3 separate regions of the Homo sapiens genome follow, and all the other regions are linked to region 1. Evidence: fine-mapped expression QTL. A gene starts in region 1. Each other region holds a variant in brackets. All regions are shown on one strand. Distances are between the middles of the regions. Region 1 holds the start of RNF40 (ring finger protein 40). Region 2 overlaps PRSS36 (serine protease 36). Region 3 overlaps SRCAP (Snf2 related CREBBP activator protein).

Evidence for each region. PIP is the estimated chance that this variant, and not a neighbour inherited with it, causes the effect.
Region 2: its variant is fine-mapped to the expression of RNF40 in vagina (GTEx, PIP 0.98).
Region 3: its variant is fine-mapped to the expression of RNF40 in whole blood (INTERVAL, PIP 0.91).

Annotation. Positions count from the first base shown.
Region 1 is chr16:30,759,514-30,764,840 of GRCh38, forward strand. It overlaps RNF40 (ring finger protein 40), which reads left to right and starts at 2,809. Exons shown (of 20, transcript NM_014771.4): 1 at 2,809-2,847; 2 at 2,962-3,164; 3 at 3,605-3,772; 4 at 3,905-4,046; 5 at 4,666-4,872. The coding sequence starts at 3,033. It overlaps PHKG2 (phosphorylase kinase catalytic subunit gamma 2), which reads left to right. Exons shown (of 10, transcript NM_000294.3): 10 at 1-1,663. It overlaps CFAP119 (cilia and flagella associated protein 119), which reads right to left and starts at 2,549. Exons shown (of 9, transcript NM_001014979.3): 1 at 2,032-2,549; 2 at 1,685-1,716; 3 at 1,093-1,155; 4 at 771-940; 5 at 141-211. The coding sequence starts at 2,235. RefSeq lists enhancers at 474-1,673, 1,638-1,787, 2,378-2,557, 2,513-3,150, 2,638-2,897 and 3 more and a silencer at 1,872-2,101.
Region 2 is chr16:31,139,173-31,144,499 of GRCh38, forward strand. It overlaps PRSS36 (serine protease 36), which reads right to left. Exons shown (of 15, transcript NM_173502.5): 7 at 4,416-4,665; 8 at 4,170-4,299; 9 at 3,565-3,821; 10 at 3,309-3,472; 11 at 2,551-2,788; 12 at 2,297-2,438; 13 at 1,320-1,585; 14 at 1,122-1,243; 15 at 1-244. Among named protein-coding and RNA genes, the nearest start is that of PRSS8, 6.1 kb to the left of the region's middle. RefSeq lists enhancers at 1-690, 972-1,507, 1,508-2,041, 3,773-3,852 and silencers at 2,973-3,262, 3,313-3,722. The variant T/TAAAC (reference allele first, on the strand shown) is at 2,204.
Region 3 is chr16:30,704,471-30,709,470 of GRCh38, forward strand. SRCAP (Snf2 related CREBBP activator protein) reads left to right here. Exons shown (of 34, transcript NM_006662.3): 5 at 2,713-2,898; 6 at 3,102-3,242. Among named protein-coding and RNA genes, the nearest start is that of SNORA30, 3.6 kb to the right of the region's middle. The variant C/T (reference allele first, on the strand shown) is at 3,082.

The DNA.
Region 1 (5,327 bases):
CCTCCAAAAGCCCAGCAACAGGAGCAAGGAGAGCCCACTGGGGTCTTCACAAGAAGATAAGGGTGATGAATGTGAGAGAGACTGGGTGAGACCTTGTCTGGGGATGGGTAAAGTTTCCAGAATGTTCCAGGGGAACTGACCCTGACTCCATGGCAAAAAAGGACACTGGTGAAGTAGCGGTAGCACTCCTCCACGTTGCCCAAGGGGGTTGCTGGTAGGGAAAGCAAGATGCAGCAGTGAGGCCCTCTCTGGTATCCATTCATTCACTTCACTCAACAGCTGTTTATGACCATGAGCTTCAGAAGCAGACAGATCTGGGTTTCAGCACTGGCTTGTTTCCTTAACTCATGTAACAAATACTGAATACCCACTATATGCCCACTGTATGGTTTTCGGCACTGAACAAGACAGACAAGGTCCTGCCCTTACGAAGCTTATATTCTAGGGGAATAAACCAAGAAATAGATCATTTCAGCTATTAAACATTCTGAAGCAAGAGCTATTAAACATTCTAAAGCAGGTGTTATTGTGCACTATGCATATATTTGCATATATTATTTCTCAGAACAGTCCTGTAAAATGTGTGCTGTATCCTTAATTTCTAGATAAGGAAGCAGTGGATTGGAAAGCTGATGGCTTGTGTATGATGATGCTACTAATAATGACATATTCCAGGCAGAAATCCCCTGCTTCTGCTTCCCATGGTCACTTGTGCCAGGCCCGGTTCCTCTTCTCCCTGGGGCTCAAACCTGGTAGCTGCCCCCTCTCACCAATACAAGCCTTGTGAAGATCCTGGAGCAGGGCACAAGCCGCTGACGTCTGCTCCAGTGAGAAGCCCTGCTGGCGGCAGAAAATGAGCGCGTGGCAGAAGAGGTCCAGGGTGATGGCGTCCCTCAGGCTCTGCTCAGGACACCCTAGCTCCAGCAGCTCAGCCAGCACCCTTGGGAGGGAGAGAGGAGTGAGTGACAACTGGGCCTCCTTTCATCACCCTACACCCACCACATGCTTTGGAGTCAGCCATTCCTCATGTTTTCCCAACCTGACCCCTCAGCCTTTGCCAAGAGCTCTTCCCACGCCCCCCTCAGTCCCTACTCCCTCATCTCAGCATTGGTGGTCTTCTCCAGCTGGTGCATGGAATGGACGTCCAGGTACTTCCTGTTATAGTAAAAGAAAAAGAGTATTGGTGGCCGTTACCTATCATGACAAGGCTGTGACAGCTAGTGCGTGAGACTGGGAGTTGGCCACCGGCGTGAAGCTGGGCTCTTTTGCCAGCTTGCTGTGTGACTATGCAAATCGTTAACTCTCTGGGCCTAAATGAACTCTTATGAGCCTCTCCATTTCTAAAGCCTAGGGTTAGGAATCTTGAATTCTTTTTTCTGCTCTGCCACTACCTTGTATGACCTTGGTCAAGTACTCCCTGTGGCCCTCAGTGTCCCCCTCTGTACAATACTCCTTAGCGGCCATGAGACTCCATTTACATTCTGTCTTTGGCTCTTTTTTTCTCACACTGCCTCCTCTTTGGACTGGAGAGGCTGGAAAGCCAACTTCCAGTCACCTGGAGTAATTGCATCTCCAGGCCTCAGTCTCATCTGTAAAATGGGGATGCCCTGGCCACAGACAGGACTGTTGGGGAGACAATAAAGAACGCAAATATTCAGTGTAATTTTTGTCTCTTCACACTCACCACATGCAGATCCGGGGTCGGGGCAGCGGCGGCTGCGGAAAGAAAGCGAATTGGGGAAGGCAGCTGCGGTGTCCTGGCCCGTAGCGAATCTCCAGCAGGCCGGAGAAGCCGCTGTAACTTGCCATCTCATCTCAAGGACTAAGGAGAGGCGCGGGCGAGGGAGGGCTTCAGCAGGCCCTAGGTGCTCTACGCGAGCACAGTAACCACCGGGGTCACACACCCCTGCCTCTCCTCGCCCAAGCAGCCCGGGAGACGTCCCGAACGTTAGTAAGCATAATGACAGGTGGCGCCTGCGGGGGAGCCGGTTTATAAATATTCACGAGCAGACCAGACTGTCCCGCCCTCACCGGAAACAAGTTGGCTCCGGGGTCTTCATCCGCTTTCGCCGCCGCCGCCGTCGTCCACTGAGTCCGCACACTCGCACGCGTCCGCGCGGCCGACCCATGCACTGAGCTGCGATCCTTCCCCGCTTCCCGCCGCAGCTCGGAGAGATGTTCAAGCTCCGACTGCACCCTCATTCCCAAAAAGTGGCTGGTCTTGCGGTTGAGCATCTCGCCGCTCTTCCGTGCCGCGAGGCGCCCCGGGCTCCCGCCGCCTAGGTTCCAGGACAGCCAGCGCTCGGTCGGCGGCTACCAAGGCCGGGCCCGTTCGCCTCGCTCCGGCCAATCTACGCGCGGAGAGGCGCGGCGGGGCGAATCCGTGGGGGCGTCTCCCTCCGTCTCAACGGCGACGGTTGCCAAGGGGGCTTGTGAGGGAAGGAAGGCGGAAAGCGCAGGCTCACGCCAGTGGGAGCGAAGAGAACGCGCAGATACGTGAGAAGTTGCGAGTGCCCACCTGGGCGCCCTCTCTTCCAGGTTGCTAATACGAGGGCCGGTGCTGTCCTCCAGGCTGGGAAGTGGGAGCGCGGTGTCAGTTACTATGGGAACTGCCTCTTGGCCAATCACCGAGAGAAAGAGGAGGTGTTTGGGAAGAAGCCAGAGGACCCGAGTGGCGGGACCAAGCGTAACCAATAGAAGCAGAAGATAAAGAAGTTTCCTCACATCCGGGGCTGCCTTTGGCGCCTGCGCCCTGCGCACCGTTGGGGGGGGGGCAGTGGCGTCCAGTGACGCCCAGTGACGTCCGGTGAAATCCAAGATGGCGGCGCTAGGCTGACCCTCCTGCTGGTGAGGGCTCTGGCGCCGGGGGGGACGGGATCCAGCAGGTGTGTGCAGGGTGGAGGGTGTTTGGGGCTGTGGAACACCAGCCGTTCCCACATCTCTGCTCTGTGTCTTCTGCAGGTGACGGAAGTACCGCCTCCTCCCGTTTGACGCCCCTCAGGGGACCCTGCATCGCTCCAGCCGCCGCGGCCATGTCTGGGCCAGGCAACAAACGCGCCGCCGGCGACGGGGGCTCAGGGCCCCCGGAAAAGAAGCTGAGTCGTGAGGAGAAGACCACCACGACTCTTATCGAGCCCATTCGTCTTGGAGGCATCTCTTCCACGGTTCGTGGGCTCTTGCCTTAACCCTCAGAACTTCCCAGAGCCCTCCCTCTGTTCTCTGGCCAAACTGTGCGGAATCTTACACCCACTTCCCCAAGTTTAGCAAGGTCCGCGTTACAGGACCTTGAAAGAAAGGTTAGAAAGAAGCTCAGAACACGACGCCTGTCTTCCCTTTACAGATAGGAAAACAGGTTTCCAGGGGGCGTGTGACTTGTCAAAGACTAAGGATTTACAAGGGGACAGGCAGAAACAACGTGAGCCTCCTCACAACAAAGACACTTTCGCTGTGTGTTGTCTGAGCCTCCTTAGATTCTGTTAGCGGTTAGTGTGGGAATACCTCCATCTCCCATGCATTGCAGATGCTCTGCTCCTCTTTCTCTCTCTGTGATTGGTTTGTGGGCCCTGCTTGACGCTCTCGTCGGCCCCTTTGTTTCCTTTGGTAGGAGGAGATGGACCTGAAGGTACTACAGTTCAAGAACAAGAAACTGGCAGAGCGGCTGGAACAACGGCAGGCTTGTGAAGATGAACTCCGAGAACGAATTGAGAAGTTGGAGAAGCGGCAGGCCACAGATGATGCCACACTCCTCATCGTCAATCGCTACTGGGCCCAGGTGGATACCTTCTGCTTTCAAAGACCAGGCCTTGATTCAGCTGCCAATCCCCAGATTCCCCTGCTAGGAAAGGAGTATCATGTTGGAAAGCACTAAGGGATTCATAACATTTTTGATGTTTTCTCCTTCCAGCTGGATGAAACTGTGGAAGCCCTTCTCCGATGCCATGAGAGCCAGGGGGAGCTGTCTTCAGCGCCTGAGGCACCTGGGACCCAGGAGGGGCCAACATGTGATGGGACTCCTCTCCCAGAGCCGGGGACATCAGAGCTGAGAGGTAGGACCAGAGTGCTGGGATCTGGGGAGCTTAAGTTCTGGGAGAAGTCCTGGGGAGGAGGGGACTTTGGTGTTGGGCCCCTGAATTGCCTATCTTACTACTTCTCACGAAATGGATTTCATGTTTGGGCAGTAAAGTGCAGTGCACAAAAACACAGGCTTTAGACTCTGACTAACTTGGTTTATAGAGCAATTCATGTTTTGACACCCATTTGTTTCAAAACAGTATTATGGTTGAGTATTAAATATGTATTTGACGCTTCCTAGAAATGAGTGTTGCACTTGCTATAAGGGAGGAAATTATAAACATAGTAAGCAGAAAGTACTGGGGCTCCTGAAACGGAATGATTGTGTGTGCATGCATGTGCGTGTGATTCTAATTATATTGGTAAAGTACAGGAAGCTTCCCTGAGGATGTGATACGCAACTCTGTAGCTTTGAGGAAATTACTTTACCTCCCTGAATTTCATTTGTCTCACTTTCAGGATGGAGATAATAGTGCACTATAGGTTGTGTTGATTAAGTGAACCATGAGTATTGAAGGGCTCAGTCTGGAACTTGGTACAGAGTGGTAGTAACTGCTGCTCTTATCCTCATGAGGGTCTGTCCATTCCTTCCAGACCCCTTGCTGATGCAGCTGCGGCCCCCTCTCAGTGAGCCGGCCTTGGCTTTTGTGGTGGCACTGGGTGCCAGCAGCAGTGAGGAGGTGGAGCTGGAGCTGCAAGGCCGAATGGAGTTCTCCAAGGCAGCTGTGTCTCGTGTGGTAGAGGCCTCAGACCGCCTACAGCGCCGGGTGGAGGAACTCTGTCAGCGAGTGTACAGCCGAGGTGGGTTCTTTGTGCCCATACTGAAGGGGTGTCCATCCCCACCTGCATCTTGATGGCACCCCTTCCTGATTCCCCTAATGCCCGAGTCCAAGGGCGGCCAGAATTTCCCAAGGAATAAATCAGCCATGTTCTTGGAAGAGGTAGGTTAGGCTGTAGATGGGGGTTCCAACTTTGATTCCGGGATTGAATGCTAGAGAGATGGGTTGGAGGAGTTGTTGATGCCGGTAGAGGCTCCTGGCCAGAGGCCCCTCTGGAGCACTTGGTGTGGGTTGCGGATCCACAAGGCATAGCTTCAAGGGCTCAGGCCTTGTAGGTTGACAGGCTTCTCCCACCTTAGTTCTGCCACCCTCACCTGGACATGCTGGGAAAGTGGCTCCCCTCTCTGAGCTGGTTTCCTTCTCTGTGCAGTGGGGATAAAGACTCCTGGCTTTGTCATGAGAAATGGGCAAGACAGC
Region 2 (5,327 bases), 380 kb after region 1:
AGTAGACTGCATGCGGGGATCCCGAGGCCTTGGCCAGTTCTGGGGGGCAGAGATTGCTGCCTCCAGTGGGCCAGTGTGGGGAGCCACTGGGGGGCAGGAAGTTGGCCTCTCCCACTGTCTGGGAGATCCAGGCCTCTTCAGGACCAATGGCAGCAAACAGCTCCCGGCTCCCTTGAACAGCCATGCCCACGAGGATCCAGGACCCTTCCGTCATCTGGCACAGGAGGGGCGGTGCTGAGGTCATCTGCAGAGTTGGAGCGAGGCCACGTGGGTCTGCTGCCCTTCCTCTTGGTCCCCTCCCCCTTTCCCCAGGGTCTGGCCACGAAGCACTCTGGTCTGCATCCCTAGACATCCAGGTCCCTGGTTTCTCTCCCGGGTCCAGCTAGGGTCCCATTTGGGGCCAAATACCCAATAATTCCAATCCTGGCCAGGTGCAGTGGCTCACACCTCTAATCCCAACCCTTTGGGAAGCCAAGGTGGGCGGATCATTTGAGGTGAGGAGTTTGAGTCCAGCTTGGCCAACATGGTGAAACCCTGTCTCTACTAAAAATACAAAAATTAACCAGGTGTGGTGGTGCATGCTTGTAATCCCAGCTACTAGGGAGGCTGAGGCAGGAGAATCTCTTGAACCTGGGAGGTGGAGGTTGCAGTGAGCCAAGATCACACCACTGCACTCCAGCCTGGGTACCAGAGCGAGACTCAGTCTCAAAAAAAAAAAAAAAAAAAAAAAAAAATTCCTTGGCCGGGCGCAGTGGCTCACACCTCTAATCCCAGCACTTTGGGAGGCCGAGGCCGGCGGATCACGAGATCAGATCAAGACCATCCTGGCTCACACAGTGAAACCCCGTCTCTACTAAAAATACAAAAAATTAGCCGGGCGTAGTAGCGGGTGCCTGTAGTCCCAGCTACTCGGGAGGCTGAGGCAGGAGAATGGCATGAACCAGGGAGGTGGAGCTTGCAGTGAGCCGAGATCGCGCCACTGCACTCCAGCTGGGGGACAGAGTGAGACTCTGTCTCAAAAAAAAAAAAAAAAAAAAATTCCAATTCTGCTATCTCTCTAGGGTACAGTAGTCCAACACTGCCTCTCCCCTGCCTACTCCAGGACGCCCAGGCCCCTGTACCTCACACCTGTTCTCCTGCCCCTCTGCATACAGGACACAGAGGGTTCCAGGGGGCAGGATGCCCTGATAGAGGCAGTCACAGATTCGTTGTGTCAAGATGGAGACAGCAGCAGCCACAGGGACTGGGGAGAGGAGACAAAGTTGTTCCAGGGCTCTGGCCTCCAGCTACTCCTCGTTCCCGTGACCCAGGGGTCTCACCTCGGTCCTGGGGTTCTTTCCAGCCCAACACCCAGCAGCTGGCCCCCGGGGGGATACCCGCCGGGTGGAGACAGATGGGCAGGGCTGATGGGGAGGGCTCCACCCGGGAGCTCAGCTCCAGGAGGGCCAGGGGGGGCCTGAGTCCCAGGTGCTGGGGCAGCCGGATGCTGATGACCAAGCGGGATACCTGGTGGCCCTGTGGGAGGGAGCTGGCCCCTGCCCGGCCCAGATACACTTCAATGTAAGGCACTGTTGTAGAGCCTGGCCTGTTGGAACAAGGTCCAATGTCACCTTCTGCTCCTCCCATTGCTGGCAAAGTCCTTCCCAGCCCAGGGGAAGGATGACTCTCTGGGGTCATGCCACTCACTCCTTCATCATCCCTCCTTCCAAATCTCCCTTCTAGGTCAAAACATCTCCCAGTGCTGTAAGATTCTTCCCTCATGCCCCACCCCAGACAGAGTCTTGCTCTGTCGCTCCGACTGGAGTGCAGTGGCGCAATCTTGGCTCACTGCAACCTCTGCCCTCCCTGGGTTCAAGCGATTCTCCTGCCTCAGCCTCCCACGTAGCTGGGGTTACAGGCGCCTGCCACCACCCCTGGCTAATTTTTGTATTTTTAGTAGAGGGGTTTCACCATGTTGGCCAGGCTCGTCTTGAACTCCTGACCTCATGATCTGCCCGCCTCGGCCTCCCAAAGTGCTAGGATTACAGGTGTGAACCATTGCGCCCAGCTGTAAGATGCTTAAAGGAGAATATCCCACTATTTTAAGAGTCCTTTGGGTGAGGCACAGTGGCTCATGCCTGTAATCTTAGTACGTTGGCCAAGGCAGGAGGATTGCTTGAGGCTGGCCTGGGCAACACAGCAAGATCTCATTGTTAATTTTTTT[T/TAAAC]AAACAAACAAACAAACAAATAACAAAAACAAGTCTTTGGCTCTGTTCCATTCTCCCCTCCCGTCTCTCGCCTAGGAGACGAGTGAGACCCACCTGAGGACACAGTGAGTGGCTGCCAGGACCCAGCCTGGGGCCAGGAGGATCCCAGTGCAGACTCGATCACCAGCCACATGCACCTCTGCCAGCCAGGGCCACAGGACCCCCACTGGAGCAGCCTCCAGCCGCAGGCCACAGGCTAGGGAGAGGAGGTGGCCACCTCAGTTGGGGCCCCATGGCTGACCCCTGAGCCCCTGCCATGGGTCTGTGCACTCCCAGGAGCCCCTAGGGCCCAAAAGCGTCCTGCTCACCACCATGCTCTGTGTGTGGGGGACAAGTCTGTGTCTCAGTCTCCTCCCCATCAGGGCCCCAATCCCAGGCTAGCTGGTCCTCCAGGTAGGCTCCCCGAGTCACATGGCTGATCCATGGGCCATGAGTCTGCAGAGGGAAGAAGGCTCGGGGACGTAGACAGCCACTGGGAAAGTCTCTGATTCCAGCCAGAAACCAGGTCCCCTCCTCCTGGCACAAAAGGCTCCAACGCGAGTCATTCTGCAGCAACAAAGTGTGTGTGTTACTTGCCTCTGCGTGTGTGCAGAGAATATCAGAGCTCCTGGGGCTTTCCAGGACTCCAGATTTTCCCATTTGCGGAAGTATCAAGTTCCACCTTCTCCAAATCAGACTCCAAATACTAATTTGTGTAAGAATTCAGCCCTCACTTTAAGATTCTCCTTAAATCCAGAGATAGAGAGAAACCATAGCACCAGCTCAGAGCCCGCCTCAGCTCCCTCCCAAAAGTTCTCTAGGGGCAGGCCCCACCCCCAGCTCGTTCTGGCCCCGCTTCCACCCCGGCTCCGCCCCATTCCCAGTTCCGCAAGCCCCGCCCCTTCCTAGAGCCCACTCGGACCCGCCTTCCCCAGGCCCCGCTCCCTCCCTAGAGCCCACTCGGACCCGCCTTCCGCAGGCCCCGCCCTCTCCCTAGAGCCCACTTGGACTCGCCTTCCACAGGCCCCGCCCTCTTCCTAGAGCCCTCTCGGGCCCGCGTTCCGCGGGCCCCGCCCCCGCCGCTTACCCAGCAGCTGCCCACCTCCTCCTTTTCCTGGTAGGCAGGGCAGAGCGCGTGCGGCGGGTCTCCGGGCAGCGGTACTGCCGCCCCCTGGCGGCCGTACAGGCAGTGGCACCACCAGCCGCCTAACAGCTCCGCCTCCAGCAGCGCGCCTGGGCCAAGCGCGGGTTCTGGAAGGGAAAAGGCAGGGAGCCCGCGCTGCGGCCCAGACGGCCCCTGCACCGCCCGGTGCCGCCCGGCCCAGCGCCGGTCCCCAGCTCACCCCCGCGGCCCCAGCGGGCCAGGCGGCAGCGGCTCCCGGGCAGGAAGTAGTGTTCCGGGTGGGGTAGGCACACGGGCCGCGAAGCCGCGCTCAGGTTCACGGGCGTGCGCAGCTGCAGCAGCGCCAGGTCCGAGGCGTTGTCCCACGAAGCGTTCTCGTGCTGCACCAGGCGCGCCACCCGCTCCGCGCGCGGGCGCGAGGGCAGCAGCACGCGCCAGGCGTCGAGGTCGCGGGGTGGGCTGTCGGAGCTGTTCGGGCTGCGGGATGGGGGCCGAGGGACGTGGGCCGGATCCCGCACACGTGGCTGGAAACCTCACACCCCGGCTTAGACTTGCCAGGCGAGGATCCTGCATCCTGGCGGGATCCCCACGACACCCCCATTCCAACAGCTCACTCACACCCCCGCCTCCGGGATCGAACTTCTATCTACCATGCCTCTACCCACCCCTGCCAGGCCAGGACCCCTCTTTTTGTGCTGGATCCTACACCTCCGAATGGGACCCCGCCCCCCCCACACCCCCTGGGGAGGGGCTGGGGCCGAATGGATGGTATCTCAGGCTGTAGGGAGGGGCAAGGATCGGCTTGAAACGTAGATTTTCACTCACTCCAGAAAGCAGCTGGCAGGTGCCAAGACCCAGCTTTCAGACACCAGCGCCCCATGGCAGGGTCTGGATCCTGGCACCATCACCTGGGCCTCCCAGGGCCAGGCCCCTGGCCGCGGGGCCTTCCCGCACTCTGAGGGGTGAGAGGCCTGGGTCAGTGGGCCTCCTGCAACCCAATCACTCCCAGCAGTCTCCATCCCAACTCACTCTCCCATGTCCCGCTTACATCCAGGGGTGCCGCCCACTCACCAGGCAGGGCAATGGTGCAGTTCTCCTCCCTGGGCTCCTGGGGATCTGACTGGGTCTTCTGGGGCTGGGTGGGAAAGGCAGGCCCAGGCTCTGAACCCATCACCTGCTCCCGTATCCATGCCTCATAGGTAGCCACAGCAGTGAAAACTCCAGGGCGGTTTCTCCGTCCACAGCCAAAGCCAAAGCTGGTGATTCCTGCCTGGAACCAGCGGCCGCCTTCCTCACAGACCAGGGGCCCCCCAGAGTCACCCTAGTGGCAGATGACTGCATGTCAAGGGGTCAGCCCAGGGACCTACTCGAAAAGGTCCTGCACCTCCTTTTGGCCCAACATACACCACCTTCTCCCTTCTCCTAGAAACCCTCCTTGGCTAGGCCTTGTCCTCTGCATTCCCTGCGGCTCTAAACAGAAGAAATCCCTGTAAGCAGAAGGCCGATGGCAGCCAGAGCCAAGAGCACCAGGGGAGTGCATTCAAAGCCACACAAGATAATCCTGCAGTTGTCATTAGAGCCAAGTGATTCTTGTTGTTACTAGCTCAAATAATTCCCCTCCCTCCCTTCCTTCCTTCTTTCCTTCCCTTTCTTTTTCTTTCTTTCTTTTCTTTTTTGAGACGGAATCTCGCTCTGTCTCCCAGGCTGGAGTGCAGTGGTGCAACCTCAGCCCACTGCAACCTCTGCCTCCCGGGTTCAAGTGATTCTCCTGCCTCAGCTTCCCGAGTAGCTGGGACTACAGGTGTACACCACCACAGCCGGCTAATTTTTGTATTTTTGGTAGAGATGGGTTTTTGCCATGTTGGCCAGGCTGGTCTCAAACTCTCGACCTCAAGTGATCCACGTGCCTCGGTCTCCTAAAGTGCTGGGATTACAGGCGTGAGCCATTGTGCCCAGCCAGTTTGTCTCTTTTTTTGGGATGAG
Region 3 (5,000 bases), 55 kb before region 1:
TTGAGTCTCATTTTCCTTGCTGTAAATAAAATAGGAATGATATAATAGTTTATAGGCTATTAAGAGGTTTAAGTTATAGGAGCAAGGCCAGGCGCAGTGGCTCACACCTGTAATCCTGGCACTTTGGGAGGCTGAGACAGGCAGATCTCTTGAGCCCAGGAGTTCAAGACCAGACTGGGCAATGTGGTAAAACCCCATCTCTGTAAAAAGTACAAAAAATTAGCTGGGTATAGTCGCACATGCCTGTAGCAGTCGCAGCCACCCAGGAGCCTGAGTTGAGAGGATCACCTGAGCCCAGGAGGTCAGGGCTGCAGTGAGCCACGATTATGCCACTGCACTCCAGCCTGAGCAACCGAGTAAGATCCTGTCTCAAAAAAAAAGGAGAAAATAGACACAAAAGCACTTTGTAAACTGTGATGCTCTTAAGATTTACTGGTTTCTATTTATTTCTATCGTGCAGTCTGTATTACATTTATCCAGTGGTAAGTGTGGTCTCTGGGCCAGCAGCATCAGCATCACCTGGGAACTTAGTAGAAACACAAATTCTTTGCCGGGCGTGGTGGCTCATGCCTGTAATCCCAGCACTTTGGGAGGCCGAGGCGGGTGGATCACCTGAGGTCAGGAGTTCGAGACCAGCCTGGCCAACGTGGCAAAATCCCATCTCTGCTAAAAATACAAAAATTAGCCTGGCGTGGTGGCGCAGGCCTGTAGTCCTAGCTACTCAGGAAGCTGAGGCAGGGAAATTGCTTGAACTGGGAACCGGAGGTTGCAGTGACCTGAGATGATGCCACTGCACACCAGCCTGGGTAACAGTGAGACTCTGTCTCAAAAAAAAATGCAAATTCTTGGTACCTCTCACCCACCGACCCATTTGAAACTATGAGGGTAGGGCCCAGCAATGTTTTTATTTTTTATTTTTATTTTTATTTTATTTATTTATTTTGTTGAGACGGAGTCTCGCTCTGTCGCCCAGGCTGGAGTGCAGTGGCAGAATTTTGGCTCACTGCAAGCTCCGCCTCCCGGGTTCACAGCCATTCTCTGGCCTCAGCCTCCTGAGTAGCTAGGACTACAGGCGCCCGCCATCACACCCGGCTAAATTTTTTGTATTTTTAGTAGAGATGGGGTTTCACCATGTTGGCGGGATGGTCTTGATCTCTTGACCTTGTGATCTGCCAGCCTCGGCCTCTGAAAGTGCTGGGATTACAGGCATGAGCCACTGCGCCCGGCCACAATTGGGTTTTTTTTTTTTTCCTTGAGACGGAGTCTCAGTCTTTCGCTGAGGCTGGAGTGCAGTGGCATGATCTCGGCTCACTGCAAGCTCCGCCTCCTGGGTTCACGCCATTCTCCTGCCTCAGCCTCCCGAGTAGCTGGGACTAAGCGCTCGCCACTATGCCTGGCTAATTTTTTGTGTTTTTAGTAGACACGGGGTTTCACCGTTTTAGCCAAGATGGTCTCGATCTCCTGACCTTGTGATCCACCCGCCTTGGCCTCCCAAAGTGCTGGGATTACAGGTGTGAGCACAACCTGTTTCTAAAAGTCCTCCAGATGATTCCGGTGCCTCCTCAAGTTTGAGAGCAGCTGGTCTAATATCCACGTCTTTCTTGATGTTTCCTTCACTGTCAGGCCATTTAGTCCTGTCTGGTCTCTGGCTGTCATTTTCTCTGATTTAGTTTTTATCAGGAGAGGACAGAAATAACAAAGACAGAGGCTGGGTGCGGTGGTTTTCGCCTATAATCTGAGCATTTTGGGAATCCCAGGCAGGCGGATTGCTTAAACCCAGGAGTTCCAGACCAGCCTTGACATTGTGAAACCTCGCCCCTACGAAAAATACAAAAAAATTAGCTGGGCATGGTTGCATGTGCCTATAGTCAGTCTCAGCTACCTGGGAGGCTGAGTTGGGAGGCTGAGTTGGGAAGATAACCTGAGCCTAGGCAGCAGAGTGAGACCCAGAAAAATCTCACTCAGATTTCTGAGTGAGATTCAGAAAAAGAAATAAGGCAGTTGTCCTGAATTTTTTGAGTCGTCTCTGTCAAAAAAATTTTAAATGCTTTTTAAATAAAAGACAATCAGTGTAGAAGCTTTAGTAAAAATGACCACTCTTTTTTACACCTAATCAGTGTTAAACATTTCACGTATAACGTTTCAGTATTTTTTACATAAACATATGCATTTTTACAAAAGTAGTATTTTTAAAAACAACAGTGTGTCAGTTGGGCATTATAGCATATTTCTAAGCTTAATGCATCATGAAAATACTCTGAGTAAGTAGAATTCTACAATGATGATGACCCCTTGTATCTAGAATCAAGAGGGAAGTATGTGTTCCCTACTCCTCTGGGAAGCTCCTCTTGGGATATGATTTCCCAAGTCTCTCCTATGTCTATGGGGTGTGGAGATTGTGTTAAATAATGGAAAGAGCATGAAATTTGCTGTCTGGAGTCCTCAGACCTATTTTTGATTCACATTTTCTATTACTTTCTAGCTGTGTGATCTTGGGCAAATCACTTAATCTCCCTGATCTTTTTTCCTTCTTCATCTCCCTGATCTTTTTTCCCTTCTCTGAAGAGAGTATGATACCTGCCTGTAAGTTTGGTATGTGGACTAAACATAAGCATAACACACTCAGCCCACTTAGTGCTCAGGAATTCAGCCGTGGCAGTGAGATGGAGTGTGTGTTTAGAACTGTTGATTGATCTGGCTCTCCCTGATTAGGAGGCCGAGATCGAGACTCGGATTGCTGAGCTGCGGAAGGAGGGTTTCTGGTCACTGAAGAGGCTGCCTAAGGTGCCAGAGCCCCCTCGCCCCAAAGGTCACTGGGACTATTTGTGCGAAGAGATGCAGTGGCTCTCTGCTGACTTTGCTCAGGAGCGCCGTTGGAAACGGGGTGTGGCCCGGAAGGTAGGTCTTCCGCTGGGACTTCCTTCCTTTTCCTTTTCAGGTCTGTTCCTTCCCGGTTTGTTGGAAGGGGACCAGACAGAATGGTGTAGGCATTAAGAGCAAACTCTTGATTTTCCAGATTTCTTGGCCTTGATTATTTTCTTTGCCTTTGGGTGGGGAAGTCTGGCTTTGAGTGTTTTCACC[C/T]TGGGTCTTCATTCCCACAGGTGGTGCGCATGGTGATCCGGCACCACGAGGAGCAGCGGCAGAAAGAGGAACGGGCCCGGAGGGAGGAGCAGGCCAAGCTGCGTCGAATTGCTTCCACCATGGCCAAGGATGTCAGGCAGTTCTGGAGCAATGTGGAGAAGGTAGACAGTGGGGATCAGGAAAGGAAAATGGCCTTGGATTAGATTGGTAGATGGCGTGGTAGTAGGAATGATCAAAACTTCTTGAGGGAGTAAATATAATTTCAGGCAACTCTAATGACGTTTATGTTGTATGGATAAAAAAGTATAGTGGCAAAATATGGGTCCTGCCTTTGGGGATTGTTAATAGTTCTCCTTGACACCTCTAGGCCATCTGTCCCTTGCAGGGCATTTAGCATGTGTTTACTGAAATGTATTTGTGCCACTTAGCACATGCTTAAATTCCGTCAAAGTTCCCACTGCCTGTATAGTAAGTTGTAATTATTTCTTAAGTACTACCCAGTTTCCGTCTGTATTTTCGGTCTTGCCTCCTGCCATGTTCATTCCTTCTCCCTTCCACTCCACACCCACCTTTCTTTTGTATATCTCTGTCCATTTACACATAGACTTTATGCTGCTGGGAATGCTTTTTTCCTCATGTGTACTTAGGGAACAGCCACCTATTTTTTAATTGTCTTGGACAGAGTCTTGCTGTGTCTCCTAGGCTGGAGTGCAGTGGTACGATCACAGCTCACTGCATCCTCAACCTCCTGGGCTCACGCGATCTTCCTGCCTCGATCTCCCAAGTATCTGGGACTACAGGCGCGTGCTACCACATCTTGCTAATTAAAAAAATTCTTTTTAATTTCTTTTTTTTTAATTTTTTTGTGAAACAGAGTCTCACCCCGTCACCTAGGGCAGTGGCGCAATCTTGGCTCACTGCAACCTCTGCCTCCCAGGCTCAAGTGATTCTCCTGCCTCAGGCTCTGGAGTAGCTGGGATTACAGGCATGTGCCACTATGTCTGGCTAATTTTTGTATTTTTAGTAGAGACAGGGTTTTGCTGTGTTGGCCAGGCTGGTCTTGAACTCCTGACCTCAGGTTATCCACTCGCCCCAGCCTCTCAAAGTGCTGGGATTATAGACGTGAGCCACCGCACCTGGCCTAAAAATATTTTTTTGTGGAGACAAGGTCTCGCTGTTACATACCAAGCTGATCTTGAATTCCTAGGCTCAAGCGATCCTCTCACTTTGGCCTCCCAAAGTGTGAGCCACTATGCCTGGCTTCACCTACCTGTTTTTTTGTTTTTGAGACGGAGTCTCGCTTTGTTCCCAGGCTGGAGTGCAGTGGTGCAATCTGGGCTTACTGCAACCTCTGCCTCCCAGGTTCAAGCGATTCTCCTGCCTCTGCCTCCGGAGTAGCTGAGTTTACAGGTGCCCGCCACCACGCCTGGCTAATTTTTTATTTTTAGTAGAGATGGGGGTTTCACCATGTCGGTCAGGCTGGTCTCGAACTCCTGACCTCACGTGATCCTCCCACTTCAGCCTTCCAAAGTGCTGAGAATACAGGCATGAGCCACTGTGCCTGGCCCACCTACCTATTTTTTGAGACCCAGTTCCAGCTGGGTGTGGTGATGCATGCCTGTAGTTCCACCTACGTGGGAGGGTGAGGCAGGAGGATCATTTGAGCCCAGGAGTTTGACACTAGTCTGGCCAACATAGTGAGATCTCATCTCTTTAAAAAAAAAAAAAAATCCAGCTTCAGATTGCAAACCTTCCCTCCACCTGAGGCGAAGCTGGCTCTTCTTCCTGCATGCTCCCTTTGTGCTTCCTTTAGACCATAGTGAGCCCCTAAGGTTATTTAGTTTTACTTTCCTAAGAGGCCAGCCCAGGATCTGGTTAAAGAAGGTCTCCCTAAACATCGGGTAAAAGTACATAAATAA